2 linked regions of the Homo sapiens genome follow. The protein of the gene in region 2 interacts with the protein of the main gene of each other region in a biochemical or structural test. Each region holds a gene or a part of one and is shown on either strand. Other genes may lie near its edges.

Region 1 (7,648 bases), about 11 Mb from region 2:
TTTCCCCGCCACCCTCCTTTCCCAGTCTCCCTCTTGAACTCCCTTCTCTGTGGGTCTGCAAGCAGAGACCCTATGAAGGGATGCCTTGAGGGGCTGCTGCTGCCCCAAAGTTGCTGCCATGAGCCCCCGGGAGCCACCACCCAGCCTGCAGGTGGCCTGTGTCCTTCCAGGAGGAGCTGCAGCACACACCTGCAGCTGAGAGGGGACAGACCCTCCCCAGTGCCTCTCTATTAGTCCCAGTTAGAGGGGTGAGCAAGCCAGCATGGGAGTTAGGGGTGACAGGATACAGGAGATCCACCCATGGACATCCCTGTCCTGTGAGCAGACTCGAGCCTCAGTTTGCCAGGCTCTGAAGCGAGGTAACGATCCCAGCCTCGCCTGCCTGCCCACCCCACAGGGTCACACACTCTTGCCTCTGGTGCCCTATGGCACAGGCTCAGGTCCTGGCTGGGGTGGGAGTGGGGTTCCTCCAGAGAGCTCTGGCCATGCCTCCCCCGTAGGGGGATGTCCCTGGTGCAGAAGGGCCCTGCGAGCCCCGGCAGTAAATCCTACAGCCCTGGTGGGATGGCAGGGCTGTGTCCACAAGGCCTGCCCTGCCAGCGGCACTGAACCAGGACACAAGCCCAGGCTATCAGCAGCCTACCACCAAAATTTCTCAAGAGGCTCCGAGCCCTGGGGAAGGCTCCAGTACCCAGTCCAGCCTGCTCCGCGGCTTAGGTGATTTGGGGTATGCCCCTAAAGGAAGCCGAGAGGCCATATCATGCCCATCCCCCGGTGCCCTGCCCGAGCTTCGGGTTCTATTTTTAGAAGTCCCCACAGTCATTGGATCCAGCACATCCCTGCATACCCCCTCCCCAGAGTAAGGACATTCCTCCTGCTATCTAGCTTAAGGCTTCTGGGCTGCCATTTAAGCCCCTGGCTGGCCGGGGCCAGGTGGCACATAGACCCTGGGTGAGGTCATTGGCTATCCTGAGTGCCACTGAGCCCAGTGGCCAATTTGCACCCATAGGGATAGGGCAGGGAGCACCAGCAGGAGGCCTCGAGATGGTGGAGCTGGGGGAGATGTGGGCTCAGTCCCAGGCAGGGGAGGCCACAGGGCCCATGAGAGAGCACACAGAGGCTCCACCTTATACAGGAAGGAGTCCTGCAAGCATGGGGGTGGGGAGCTGTGGGAAAGGGCAGTGGGAAATCCACTGGGGCTCACATGCTCACAGGTCACCACCTCATGCAAAGTGTGCAAGGCTGTGGGTGCCCAGGACCCTGTGGTCTCCAGGGCAGTAGATCTGGAGGGGTGGAATCTCCAGGTTAGAACAAGCCACATCTGCAACTGAAGGATGGAGGTCAGGGCCTGTTCCCTGCACCAGAGCCAGGCCAGCACCCCTCCTGTAAGCATGTGGCCTCTATGGCTATTATAAGGCTCTCACGGCATCCCTGGGTGGGGCTTCTACTTCTGGGGTCCCCTCAAGTACCCGTGGAACAAAAAAAAGATTACTCCTCCACTGGGGGCATTGGCTCCTGACCCGCTGCCCAGGTTCCCTGGCCCCTCTGCCAAGCCCCTTCAGGCCTTGCCCACTTCAGTGCTTCCCCTCCAACCCCTTCCTCCAGCCCCCAGGCCCAAGGCAAGTCCTTAAGGCCCCAGAGAAGAAACTGTCCCCTTGTTCCCCTGGTGGGCAGTAGCCCAGATACCCCTGCCTACCTACCACCCTCCAGTGACAGACTGGGGGCCTCCCCCTCTGGCCTTGTGCCCGGAACAGCACGGTCAGGGGCTCAGCCACCAGGCAGGGTTGTCCTTGCCCTGTATGCCTCACAGTTCGCCCTGAGCCTTGGGGCCTTCAGCCCTGGGTCTACCAGTGCCTTGCTGGGGAGTCTCTTTGTTTGACAGAAACTGACGGAGTGCCTACTACGGTCTGGGGGCTGTTCCCCCATCAGTCCCTGCTCCTGGAGTGCTTCCTCAGGAGCATGGCTAACTTTCTGCCTCTCTGGTGTTGCTGTCTCCAGCCAGGCGGTAGAGTTACTCAGACAACCCCTGATGTTCTGTGTCATCTGCATCAGGCCATGCTGCTCCCCATCACAGACACTGCAGGATAGGGGGCCATCTCACCAGGCCCCAGCACTTGTGGGGAACAAGACCTGAGACAGACAAAGCAGCCATGGTGAATGGGGAGAAGCGCCCAGCCCCATGAGCCAGGGTCTTGGTGTCTCAAGTTTGGGATGGAGCAGGTGCCCAGTACTCAGTCCAGCCCAGCCCCACACTCTGACAGCTGGGCAGCCAAGGTCAACCGTCTGTCTGTCCATCTATCCAACTGCCCATCACCTGCCCTCTCCATGCTGGGAATACTCCCTTCCCAAAGCAGCTGCCCATATCTAGGGAAATGCTCAAGGCTTGGGGGCACCCTGAGCCCACTCTAACAGTAAAGGGATCAGGAAGGTGCTGTACTCTCTGTCCAGCTACCTGCCTGCCTGCCTGCCTGCCTGCCTGAAAACTCAGCATTTTCTTCTCTGCTAAAAACACCTACCACCTGCTCATGATGTCTCACATGCATAACAGGCCGGCGCGCTCCAGTGAGCAAACAGCTGTGGCTGAGACCAGAGGACCAGGCCAGTCCCAGGGGATGGGGCATGCTCTGCTTTCTGAGAGGCTCAGAAAGGACAGACAGACAGACGGACACACATGCCCTCCTCCAAGCGTGCCTGCCCCATCGGGTGCCAGGCTGTGGCAGGGTGCACTCACCCGGGAGATAGTGAGGGGCATGTTGAAGTCCTTGCCCCCCTGCAGACGGAAGCCCCAGGGCCCGGGCCCAGTCAGGGTCACACTGTAAGACATGCTGGTGCTGTCAGCGGCCGCCTCTGCAGACAAAGGGTAGAGAGGGTTGAGTGAGAGGGCACTCAGGCACTCCGCCTGCCCGGTCCACACCTCTGCCCCTGCCCCTGACCCCCAGCCTTGCCTGTTCTGTCCCTTGCTGCCCAGCCGGGCTGCGTGGAGCTCTTGAGAGGCTCCTAAGAATAGCTGGGAGCGAATGCCATCGACACTGATATCTGCCTTCGGCTGCGCCCATAAATGGACTGTAACCCTACACTGTGCCTGCCAGCCTGCCGCCTCCCAGCCGGTCCACCATGACTCACACGGCTAATATAGCCCCTGGGGAGGGGTGTCCGGCACCCAGCACCCCCCAGGGGGGAGGAAGGGGAACTGGCCTGGTTGGTGAGAATGCTCTGGTCTCCTTGCTCCTGTGTCCTCTGGAGAGCGTAGACACTCGCTCTTCCTGCCCAGTGGTACCCATCCTCTTGCTCAGAAGACCAGGGGCTGAGCTCCCTTGGGTAGGGGCTTTGCTGCCGTGTGGTCCCTGGCCAGGATTCTGGGGTTGTGCTTTATCCAGTATGGGGCCCTGGAGGTGCCTTGGCTTGAGCTGAGCCTCCAGCTGGTCTGTGACTGGCCCAGGGTTGTCCAGCCATAAAAACGATCATCATAACAGCAGCTCTGGGCATAGCCAACCTCAGTATGGGCCCTTCACTCCCTGGGATCCTGAGAAGCTGCCACCTGGGCCCGCAGGAGACAAAGCTCAGGGAGGTTAAATGACTTCTCCAAGGTCACACAAGGAGTGGACCCAGGTCACACTGGAGCCTGGGCTGATTCCTACAGAATGCATGCCAGATAATGGGCTCCCAGTAGCCACAGAAGCCTCCCAAAGCCCTGGTCCTGGGCAGCTGGCCCTCTGCCTGCACCCCTTGGCATAGGGTCTGAAAGCAGGTCTGAGGCAGGCCCATCCCCTCCAGACCCTCTGGGGGCCCAGCCAGTTATTCCTGGCTCTCCTGTCTTTGTGCTCTGGAAAACTTGACGGCAGCATGGAAAGCTCCAGCTGCCAGTGCCACACGCCAGGCCCCGTGCCCTTTGCGCAGGAATGGCAGGGGGCAGGGAGAAGGGAGGAGACGCCATTTGCTCAGCTGCTAGACACAGGGCCAGGAGGGGCAGGGAGGGGGAAGCACGTGTGGCATGTTCAGCCTGTACCCCAGAGACAGTGTGTTCTGGATGGGGGCCTCAGCACCTTGGGACTTCTGCCAGTGCGGTCTTTGGGCCAACCCCTTCCCCAAGAAAGACCTCAGGCCCCTATGTGGTCTGGAGATAGATCAAGGCCCACCCTGGCTCCTTGGTTGGAGAAACTGAGGCTCAGGGGAGGCAACTGGGTTGGCTGCTTGCTGGCCCTCTTGGAGGGGTCTGGCTTGGACCCTGAGGAGTCAGTAGAGGCCTGGGTGTGAGTCATTTCTCAGCTTCTAGCCTCACTCCTGGGGCCTGGCACATGCAAGGTACAAGGTAGGATCACCCATATTACGGGGTTGTTTTGTCACTTGCCCAAAGTCACAAAACTATCAAGTGGAAGAAGTCAGGAAAAGACCTGTGTCCTTTTCCCTGCTTAATCACTTCCTTCACCCTATATCATGCAGCCCAGCCCAGGAGGCCAGCAGTCCATGGCCAGCATCCCTTCCCCATACCATTCCCTATCCCTCTCTGCAAAGCCCCATGTCATTCATCCCTAACTCCAGCCTTATGCCCTTTCCTAGGGGTGTTTGTCCATCCTGCCAGGCTGGGGAGGACTCAGCAGCAGGGCATAACCAGTGTGGGAGAAGGAAGGCACCCACCCTCAGGGCCAGGGAGCTGGGGGAGGCTGTACCTGGAGCTGCACGCTGTCTCTCTGGCCTCTGGCTCCTGCCTGATGAAGCTCGCCTCTGGGGAAAGGGAGGGGTGGCAGGAGAGTGCTCTTAAAGGCGAAGGCCGGCCTCCCTCCATCCGCCTCCCTCGGGAGATGTGAAGCCAGTCAGAGAGCAGCTGGTACCCATGGTCTGGGCGGAGTTCAATGGCTCACTGGGGAGTGAGTGGGGATGGAGGCCAGCCTGGCCTTTGTCCCTTCTCTGCTGTACTCCTTGCAGTTTGAGGTGGGCCTCAGAGTGAGAGTCCCAAGAGTGGGGACAGAGGAAGGAGAGGAAGTGAAGTTGCTGGAGGCATCAGAGGCCAGGCCCTGGTTCTCTCTCCCATAGCAGCACCAACACGTAGAGACCATATTTGTCTGAAGACACCTTCTCCGCTTTTTATTTTCCTATACCCTGTCAGATCCACACAGCCCTGGGAGGAGCTTAGACCACTACATGAAATGAATCACAGACGCAGAGTGTGCACGCATGTGCTTGGTGTGCATTCAGATAGGTAACTACGCGAGAGCGTGCCTGCAAATGCCCGCGTGCACAAGAATGTGGGCCACAGTGGAACGGTACACTGGGGGAAGAAGCCACAGGTGAGTAACTGTTCCAGCGTGCAAAGGGAGGTCTGTGCTCGGCTTCAGCTGTTGGCAGTGGGAGATGCGGGGCTGGCCTTCCTATGCCAGTGACAGGCCCAGCCTGGGGGCAGAGGCTCATAAATAGCTGGTGTGTTCTCTGGAGCCATCACCATTGTCATCGCCTGGACAATTGCAGCACACAGCATTTGAGGAGAGGCAGACAACTCGGGAAGTGGGAGGGCCTGGGCACATACCCCTCAGGCTGAGCCTCGGGTGCGGCTGCTGAGCTGGAAAGTGGATGCGGAGGACGTTATGGGGCAGGAGTTTTGAGGTGTGGAGAGGGGCCATGGGGCTGGGGCTGTGAATCCCGTGCAGCACGGGTGACAGGGCCACTTCCAAAGCCTGCAGGCTCACAGCATAATCCTGGGTCTGTGTATATGAGGGAGACGTGGGGGGGCTGGATGTGTCTCAGAAGAAAGGGAGAGCCAGTGGGCGTCCTACATCCTGGGGTCCTGGCTGGGGATCAGCCCCTTGGTCTGCAAACAAACAGCACACATCTGTTTAGCTGAGGAGCAGTTCACTGGGGGCAGTCTCCCGATGACCCTCCACACACTGGGTCACCGAGCAGTGGGGGAGGTTGCATGGAAGGGCCAGGTTGTGTCCTGGGTCAGGGATGGGCCTTCCCAGAGTCCACATCCCAGAGTAAGAGCTGGTAACGCCTAACGCTGCCTACAGAGCATCTCCTGGGATGCTCCCCGGGCTCTTGACTCCCGGGGTCACAACTGAACCCATCCTCACCCCCACCATCCAATCCGCTCCTCTCTTCCACATGTGGAGACTCTGGCATCACCCCCGCTCCTGCTGTCCTTAAATGGGTCATCCCTTTCCTGCCCTGCAGCACTTCCTTCTTTGGTCTTCACCCTGCAAAGCTAACCAACCCCCTCCCAGGGCTTCCTGTCCCCAGGTCAGGTCTGGAGACACCTAAGCCAGTCCCTGATGGGGCCTTCCCACTGCTCCTACCACCTCCGCCTCCTCTTCCCTTCTCCTATGTCCCCCACTGCCAATCCCCAGGGTCCCTCTGGCTGCTCCCAGGGTCACAGAGAGACATCCTGTTCCAGGACATATTGAGCTCCCTCCCCTGTGCCCCTGTGTTTGCACAGTCACACAGGCTGTATCCTCATCCTGGACAGCTCAGTGCTCCCCCCACTCCCCACCCCTGCTGCCTGCAGATCCCTGCTTCACCTCTATCTTCCTGGGGAACCTCAGGGACTTGCCTCTGCTTTCAGTACCCTGCGTGCTCACACCTCAATGGCAGCGCTTATCACATGTGTTTGGTGATTGTTGATGGCTGCCCAGCAACCCCCCTGAGCCTATCCCTCCAAGACAGGCACTGTGTCTTTCATCAGTGCCTGGCCAGCCTGGGGGTCACTGCCAGGCCTTTGTCCTGGCGTTTATGGCATGCACAGTGCCTGGGCTCCAGGACAGGGTGCGGGGCCCCCGGGGGGAATGCTGAGGGAGGCTGAGGCTCCCCGACTGCAGGTACAGCCCAGGGCTTTCGTTCTTGGATGCACAGGGGCACAGCACTCAGGAAGAAAGGCAGGCAGGAATGTGCCTTTGGCCTTGGACTAGCTAGGGAAGCTGGAGAGAGCCCAGGAGCTGAGCTGAGGGTGTTGTGTGGGTGTGACAGGAGGGGCAGATGGGGAGCTGTCAGCTGGGGCGAAGGGCTGCTTGGGAGCCTGTGCACACGACATTTCCAGTGTTCCAGAATATGGCCTTCTCTAATCGCCATCAACATTCCGTTCCATAGGCACTTGGGCCGACAGCTGGCCTTCTTTTAATAGCCACAAGTATTCCGGGTGACATCCTGATCTTAGGGCATTTATGGTGAGCACATCCACAGCTTACAGCCCCTTCCTCCCCAGGTATGTCCAACCTCGCAGTCACACAGAGAGGTACATACCACCCACACTCAGTCACATGCACAGCTTAAAGCAGACACATTAGGGCATGCTTAGTCACGTGTCACTGGGTGTTACAGTGACAGAGCATGTGCCAGGTGCTACAGTGATGGAGCATGTGCTGGGCACATGGCCACACACATGCTCGAGCTATGCTCTGACGGCTGCAGACCTCCTACCCTCATCAACACACACATGTACTCTTATCATGCCACAGCACAGCCAACAGCACCATGCAGAGTCAGAGTTGCATGATCACACACACACACACACATGTGCAGACCATATGCAGGCCCTGCTCAGAGCATCTCAGAGTCACAGAGAACCCCAGGCAGACAAGGAAAAGCTGGGAGGTGCTGGGAGCAGGTGATTCCTGGAGGATATCGCCCCTGCCCATGAGAACAAGTCTCTCTTTCCTGGCCT
Region 2 (6,992 bases):
TACAGGCGCATGCCGCCACGCCTGGCTAATTATTTTTGTATTTTAGTAGAGACAGGGTTCCACCATGTTGCCCAGGCTGGTCCAAACTCCTGAGCTCAGGCAATCCGCCCACCTTGGCCTCCCAAAGTGTTGGGATTACAGGCGTGAGCTACTGCACCCGGCTATAAATTTTGTTGTTGTTGTCACATAGATGAGAGGTTTCCATGTTGTCCAGGCTGGCCTCAAATGCCTAGCCTTGCCTCCTTATGCGCCAGGACAACAGGCCTGAGCCACTGTGGCTCCCGAGCTTGTGTCTTAATCATCTTGGTGTCCCCAGCATCTGTGACAGGCTCTAGCACATAGTAGGTGCTTAGTGACTGGTGAATGAATGAATGATCGAATGGATGATGGCAAGCAGACTCAGCATCTCTGCTAACCCTTAAGTTCTCAGTGATGACCTAACCCAGTAAACTCGCCACAGTGGAACTCCAGCCCCTGCACTGGCCTCTGGGGCCCTCTTTCCCCTCCCACCCTGGGGATGGGGCACAGGCTAGACAGAGGTTCTCCTCCAAGAACCCTGCCAGGCTGGGGCCTGGTAGAGACAACTGGGGACTCTAATGCTCACCCACATCTTCCTCAGACCCTACAGCCCTTCATTTCAGGTTTGTCTTTGTGGGCTGGCACACAGTAGGTGCTCAGTAGCTGTTTGCTGCATTGAATGTGAGTTCATGAAACACACAAAGCTCCCACTTTACGTCATAGATTGCTATGCAGATTAAATGGGAGAATGCCTGTAAAATGCTTAGCACAGGGCCTGGCACTGGTGTCCTGACAGCTCTGTAGCTATATTTATTGGATGAATGAACGGAAGACACTGCTCTGCGTCCCCTTGCTGAAGGTCTGTGTGTCTATTGGCAGCACTCCAGAACTGGCATAGCAGCATGACTCACCTGCCTGGCACCAGCCAACCATAGGCACATGCCCTTGGGGGAGGGAGAAGTGGGATTCCTAGAGATCCAGGGATGCTTGCCCCAGCCAGGGCTCATTCCAAGCTCTTTCCTGACCTCATCCCTTCTTCCCTTGGGGTCTTGACCCTTCCTTCCTCCTCACCCCTCATTCAGTCACACTCCTTTTTTTGAATGGCATCTACCTCCAACCTGATTTATCTCCTCCCCTCCATTCCTGCTAGGGCCAGCCTTTTCCAACAAGTCCTTCTCAGGGCCATCAGAGCTGCTTTCCTAAAATAGGTCAGATGACACCAATCTCCCTCACTCAATAACATTTAGTGGCTCCTCACTGCCCACAGAATAAATATCTTTTACATGGCCCTCTCTGGCTTGTGTCTTTCCAGCCTTAGCCCCTACTACCAGACTTTATCAAGACAGCCACGCTTTCACTCATGGAAACTTCAGCTCCTGCATTTCCTGAGGCTGGAATACCCTCCACCATCCTGGACTCCACTGAGTCCCCTTGAAGGCCCAGCTCAGGTATCCTCCTGTCCACAGAGGAGTCCCCTTTTTTTTTTTTTTGAGACGGAGTCTCCCTCTGTCACCCAGGCTGAAGTGCAGTGGTGCGATCTCGGCTTACTGCAACCTCCGCCTCCCAGGTTCAAGCAATTCTCCTGCCTCAGCCTCCTGAGTAGCTGGGATTACAGGTGCCTGACACCATTCCTGGCTAATTGTATTTTTAGTAGAGACAGGATTTCACCATGTTGGCCAGGTGAGTCTCGAACTCTTGACTTCAAGTGATCTGCCCACCTCGGATCTCAGATCTCAAAATGCTGGGATTACAGGCTTGAGCCACTGCACCTGGCCCTGTCCACAGAGGAGTCCTTGAAGGCCCTCAGAACAATTCATGAGCCCCTTGTGTTCCTCCACTTCTGATTCACACCTCTATTTAGTCATTTCTTCCCTTTGCCTTGTTTCTTAGTTGACTATGAAACCAACAAATGGGCTAAAATGAATCCTGGGTTGGTAAAAAGAAGGCAGGGTCTGACCCTTATTGGTCCACCCATTTCTACAGCTCTGGGCTCTTGGCAGAGCCAACACTAGATGAAGTATTAGTTTAAATAAAGTGAAGAGTAGGGGCCGGGCATGGTGGCTCATACCTGTAATCCCAGTACTTTGGGAGGCCAAGGTGGGTGGATCATCTGAGGCCAGGAGTTTGAGACCAGCCTGACCAACAGAGTGAAACCCCATCTCTACTAAAAATACAAAAATTAGCCAGGCATGGTGGTGCATGCCTGTAATCCCAGCTACTCGGGAGGCTGAGGCAGGAGAATCGCTTGAACCCAGGAGGCGGAGGTTGCAGTGAGTCAAGATCATGCATTGCACTCCAGCCTGGGCAACAGAGGGAGACCCCGTCTCAAAAAAAAAAATGCAGAATAGGACAAGCCAGCACCCCCTGCCACCGCTCCACTTCCTTATCCCAGAGAAAATGCAATTGCCCAGAACACCACACGCCAAAGGACTCCCCAAGGGTGGCCAGCAGGCTGGCAAAATCCATGCTTCATTTCCCAGCATCCCTTCCTCACTCTCTTCTTCACTGGCCAAATACTGGAGTTTCCCCTGCCCCAGCCTCCCACTCAGTCACTGGGGCATCACAGGGCCACACATTCCTGAAAGTCCCAGGCAGCACCCAGCTGTCTGCTTTGTACAGCCCACTGTCTCTCAAGGCCCAGGAGGGTGAGCAGTCTTAGGAAGCCCAGCCCAGCTCCCCATCTCACTGACTTAATTTTGAAGGCTGAAGCCTCAGTCTTCTGCTGCCAGCAATACCCCCTGCCAGTAATACCCTGGGACAGGAATGAGGCCCAACTGGGCCCCTGGGGACATCTGCCCCCCTCCCCACCACAGGTGTAGCAGACAGGATCTCCCTCCCCTTGACAGCAGAACTGGATCTCCTCAGACCCCCTTGGGCACCTCCACCCCTGCTCGCACCTCATTCTCCTCCTCCTGTGCCAGCCGCTGCTCGATGAGCGCTGTGGCCCTCTGCACCGCCTCGGAGTCCTCCATGGTGCCGTCCATAACCGCCTCTGCAGGCCACAGGGCCTCGGGGGCTTTATAGGCCAGAGCACCCACCCCTGCCCAGCTGGGCGCCTTTGCCATGAGCTCACTGGCCCAATTCTCCACCTGCCTCCCCCACCTGTCACCTTCACCTCGGGCAGCCCCAGGGAGCAGGGGGAGCCAGGGCCAGGGAGCAGAGCCAGTTGCCCCCCCAACTCCTGGCCTATTAGAGCCGGAGGGCACTGTGTCCCAAGAGCAGGGGTGCAGGAAGGAGCCCGTCCAGCCTCTGTCCTGAGCACTTGGGACTGGTTGGGCCTTAGCCAAGGCAACTGAGTTGCAAAAGGGAACTGCTGGCTGCATGCTCCAGCCCAGATGACAGTGCCACCTGCTGGATGCCTGGAAACCCTGCTCAGCCAGCTCCAGGAAGAGGGCCTGAAAACCAAACGGGGGACCCAGGACAGTTCTGTACTCCCAGGCTGTCCTGCAGACAGGCCCTGCTGGCTGTGAGGAGGGTCACACTCTACTTGTCCAGGCCAGGGCCGTGGTAGCAGGAAGGGCAGCTGTCTCCCTCTCTGATCACAGCTCACGCTGGCCTTCGGCTCTCCGGGGTCCCACATGCTTCCCCGTTAAGCATCACTGCATTTGGCTGGGTGACTTTTAGTCATGAACAAACCTTATCCAATCTGTCTCCTCTCTTGGTAAGTGCTCAGGGGACCTCTGCAGGGCTTACAGAGTCTTGCTTCAAGAAAGGGGTCTCCGGAAAGCACTAAGCCCAGCTAGCGAGGAACAGCAGCTACTCTGGATCCTTCTACCCTCCCAGGGTTTCCCTGTCAGGCCCAGACAGTGCCAGACTTCCCTGGCCAGGAGGCTGCCCATGCTCACTAAGAAGGAAAAATACTCCCAAGTGGAGCAAAAGCAGATCTGTACTTGCTCAGTTCCACACCTGGAACTCGCATGCTGGAGCTCTGAGTCACTGTGACCCAGGTTAATCTGCTAGGGAACTGCAGACACCCAGCCCTGTGCTTCTGTAAGGCTCACCTGGCTGGTGGCTGCCCTTAGCTAAACAGCCTTATATAAGATTCCCTTCTCTTCAGATATGCATGCATTCCCCTAGGAAGCATGAGGAACCGGTTCCTTTTCCTTTCTGGTTCCCTTGCTGGGAAGCTGACACAAACCTCTGACACACGATCTAAATCTGTCAGAGATTTTGCTTTAACATCACGATGGCTACAGCGTCTCCAGGGCCGGAAGTTAGCCCCTCTTGCTGCAGGAGCAGACCACCTTCCTGAGGTGCTGTCTTCGCCTTGCAAGCACTTTCACATCTGTCTTCCTGCTTAATCCTCCCAGCAACTGATGGAGGAGGCAGGGCAGGCAGCATGGCTCTGCTTTAAAGAAAAGCAAAGAGTGGCTTTTCCTGAGGACTCATGAGGACACCAGGGGAGCTGGGATCAGGGCCCAGAAGACTGGCAGTTCCAGGCTCACTCTGCTGGAGATTGCATGCCCAGAGCAGCTGGGGAGGCCAGGCATCCACCTGTTCCCATACCAGAACAGCTCCAGGGGCCCCACAGAGCTGCAGGAGAATTCAGTCAAATGCCAGGCAAGCGAGAAGGAGCAAAAGGCTTTATTGATAAATATGCAGATATGTCTGTCCACAGGGACCTGCTGTGGAGGCCATGACCAGGCTGCAGACCTCCCACTGCCTGGGTTACAGCCAGGACATGGCCCTGTGCAGACCCTGCCACGACAGCCCAGCTGTCCACCACCCGCCTCATCTCTGCCAATTGTGCTGGGGGCAGGGAGAGGCAGAGGCCCGCCTCAGGCTTCCCAAGCCCTGGGGCTCACGGGTGGTTCCCTCCCTTCCAAGGGAGTGGCACTGTGCCCAGGGGAGAGCCAGGGGATGGGGGCAGAGGAGGGAGACAGCAGCTGCTTCAGACCCTGAGCAGAAAACCAGAGTGAGCACAGCTGGCAGCACCAGATGACAGATCTGGGCTCCAGGGGCCTCCTGGTTGGCCCTTGTGGCTCGAACCTGCTTCGGGAGACAGGCAGGGTGAGGGCCCTGTTCGCCTTTTCTCTGACAAGGTTGCAAGGCCCGTGTGTGGCTGCCTGCTCCCTGGGTACCGGGAACTGGTGGCGCGTAGTGCCCTGAAAGGCAGGGTCCCTTCACGGCTCACCCACCAGCCACACCGAGGGGAGGGCCCCTGAAGAAAATGACAGCACTGGAAGGCAGCAGCAGGGTGGGGGCCTAGTGCTCCAGGCGGGGCCTCTTCCCAGGGGTCCGTGGGCCCATCAGTCCTGGGGTGGTGGGGGCTGGTTGATGATGACCTGGATGACAAAATCTTTCTGGATCTTGGTCTCCTGGAGCCGTGTGCGGTCTGTGAGCAGCTTCCCGGAGAAGAACCACCGCTGCCACGATGGCTCGATGCCCTCCTGGGCGTGCAGCTGCCTCTTGAGCTGCCCCACTGTGTCGGGCAGGCTGGCGCTGAGCCTCACGTCCTTGCCCGTGGACAGGCGCACCTTCAGCGGGAACTCACGGCGCACGCTGGGTGGAGGCTCGGGGGGCTCCAGGCTCTCCTCCTCCGTGTGCTCCAGCAGCAGGTTCACCGGCGGTGACAGGCAGTAGATGGGCAGCTGGTAGCGATTGCCCAGCTCATCGTAGCATTCACAGAGGGTGCCTGTAGGAGAGGCAGGGCTGTCAGAGTCAGCTTGGGGATCCACTATCATGGATTAAATGTTTGGGTCCCCCCAAATTCATATGGTGAAACTCTAACCCCCAATGTGACTGTATTTGGACATGGGGCCTATACAGAAATAAATAAAGTTAAATGAGGTCATAGCGTGGGGCCCTGACCTTCTGACCCCTTGATGGGAAAAATGGTCCTTTTTTTTTTTTTCTTTTGAGACAAGATCTCCCTATGTTGCCTAGGCTAGTCTCGAACTCCTGGGCTCATGCAATCCTCCCACCTCAGCCTCCCGAGCAGCTGAGACTACAGGTGTGCTCCACTGCCCTGGCTTACAGTTCTTGTAGAGACACTAGAGCACTATCTCACTCTCCACTCGCTCCCCATGTGAGGACACAGCAAGAAGACGGACACCTGCAAGCCAGCAACAGAGTCCTCACCAAAACCTGAACCAGCCAGCACCATGATGCCGGATTTCCCAGCCTCCAGAACTGTGGAAAATAAATGTCTCTTGATTAAGTCACCCAGCATGTGGTATTTTGTTACAGGAGCCTGAGCAGACTAATACACCTGCCATGGCCACCCCACAGTCAGATCTCCCTAGGACAGCCTGATGACCAGGTGTACAGGGCTGGAGTCAGGAAGACCTGAGCTGGCATCCCAGCTCCACCAGGTACTGGCTTGTTCATCCTGGCATATTATTTTTCACTTCTTCACATGTGCCAGGTGCTGGGGTTACAGGGATGAATGAAATAGCACAGCTCTGCTCTCCATGGGCCTTAGTGTCCTTACTGGCAAAACGTAATGCATGGAGAAATATGTTTATTGTCTCTTGAGCACCTACTAAGTGCTGGGACTGGACTAAATGATGTTATGTGTATCTTACTGAATCCTAATAATCATCTCCCCTTTACAGTCGTAAGGCAGTCAGGCTCTAAATTCGAGAAGCTCCTTGCTAAAGCCAAGACAGTTAGGAAAGGGAAACATTCAGACTGAAACCCAGGTCTGTGGCCAGGCGCAGTGGCTCACGCCTGTAATCCCAGCACTTCGGGAGGCCAAGGCGGGCGGATCACCTGCAGTTGGAAGTTTGAGACCAGCCTGACCAACATGGAGAAACCCTGTCTCTACTAAAAATACAAAATTAGCTGGGCGTGATGGCGCATGCCTGTAATCCCAGCTACTCAGGAGGCTGAGACAGGAGAATCACTTGAACCCAGGCGGCGCAGGTTGCGGTGAGCCGAGATCGCTCCACTGCATTCCAGCCTGGGCAACAAGAGGGAAACTCCGTCTCAAAAAAAAAGAAACTCAAGTCTGTGATTCTAGGGCTCCACTG

What was found.
Region 1: the proteins of ANKRD2 (region 2) and LDB3 interact in far-western blotting, tested with the Homo sapiens proteins (one study listed by BioGRID).

Annotation. Positions count from the first base shown.
Region 1 is NC_000010.11:86,663,868-86,671,515, reverse strand, and holds the start of LDB3 (LIM domain-binding protein 3), read right to left. Parts: upstream 3,006-7,648; 5' UTR 2,946-3,005; exon of another isoform or gene 2,848-2,945; 5' UTR 2,825-2,847; coding exon 2,732-2,824; intron 1-2,731. Other genes in the region: OPN4 (melanopsin), read right to left, coding at 7,525-7,648. UniProt on the Homo sapiens protein: May function as an adapter in striated muscle to couple protein kinase C-mediated signaling via its LIM domains to the cytoskeleton.
Region 2 is NC_000010.11:97,568,799-97,575,790, reverse strand, and holds the start of ANKRD2 (ankyrin repeat domain-containing protein 2), read right to left. Parts: upstream 3,003-6,992; coding exon 2,916-3,002; intron 1-2,915. Other genes in the region: UBTD1 (ubiquitin domain-containing protein 1), read right to left, coding at 5,268-5,653. UniProt on the Homo sapiens protein: Functions as a negative regulator of myocyte differentiation. May interact with both sarcoplasmic structural proteins and nuclear proteins to regulate gene expression during muscle development and in response to muscle stress.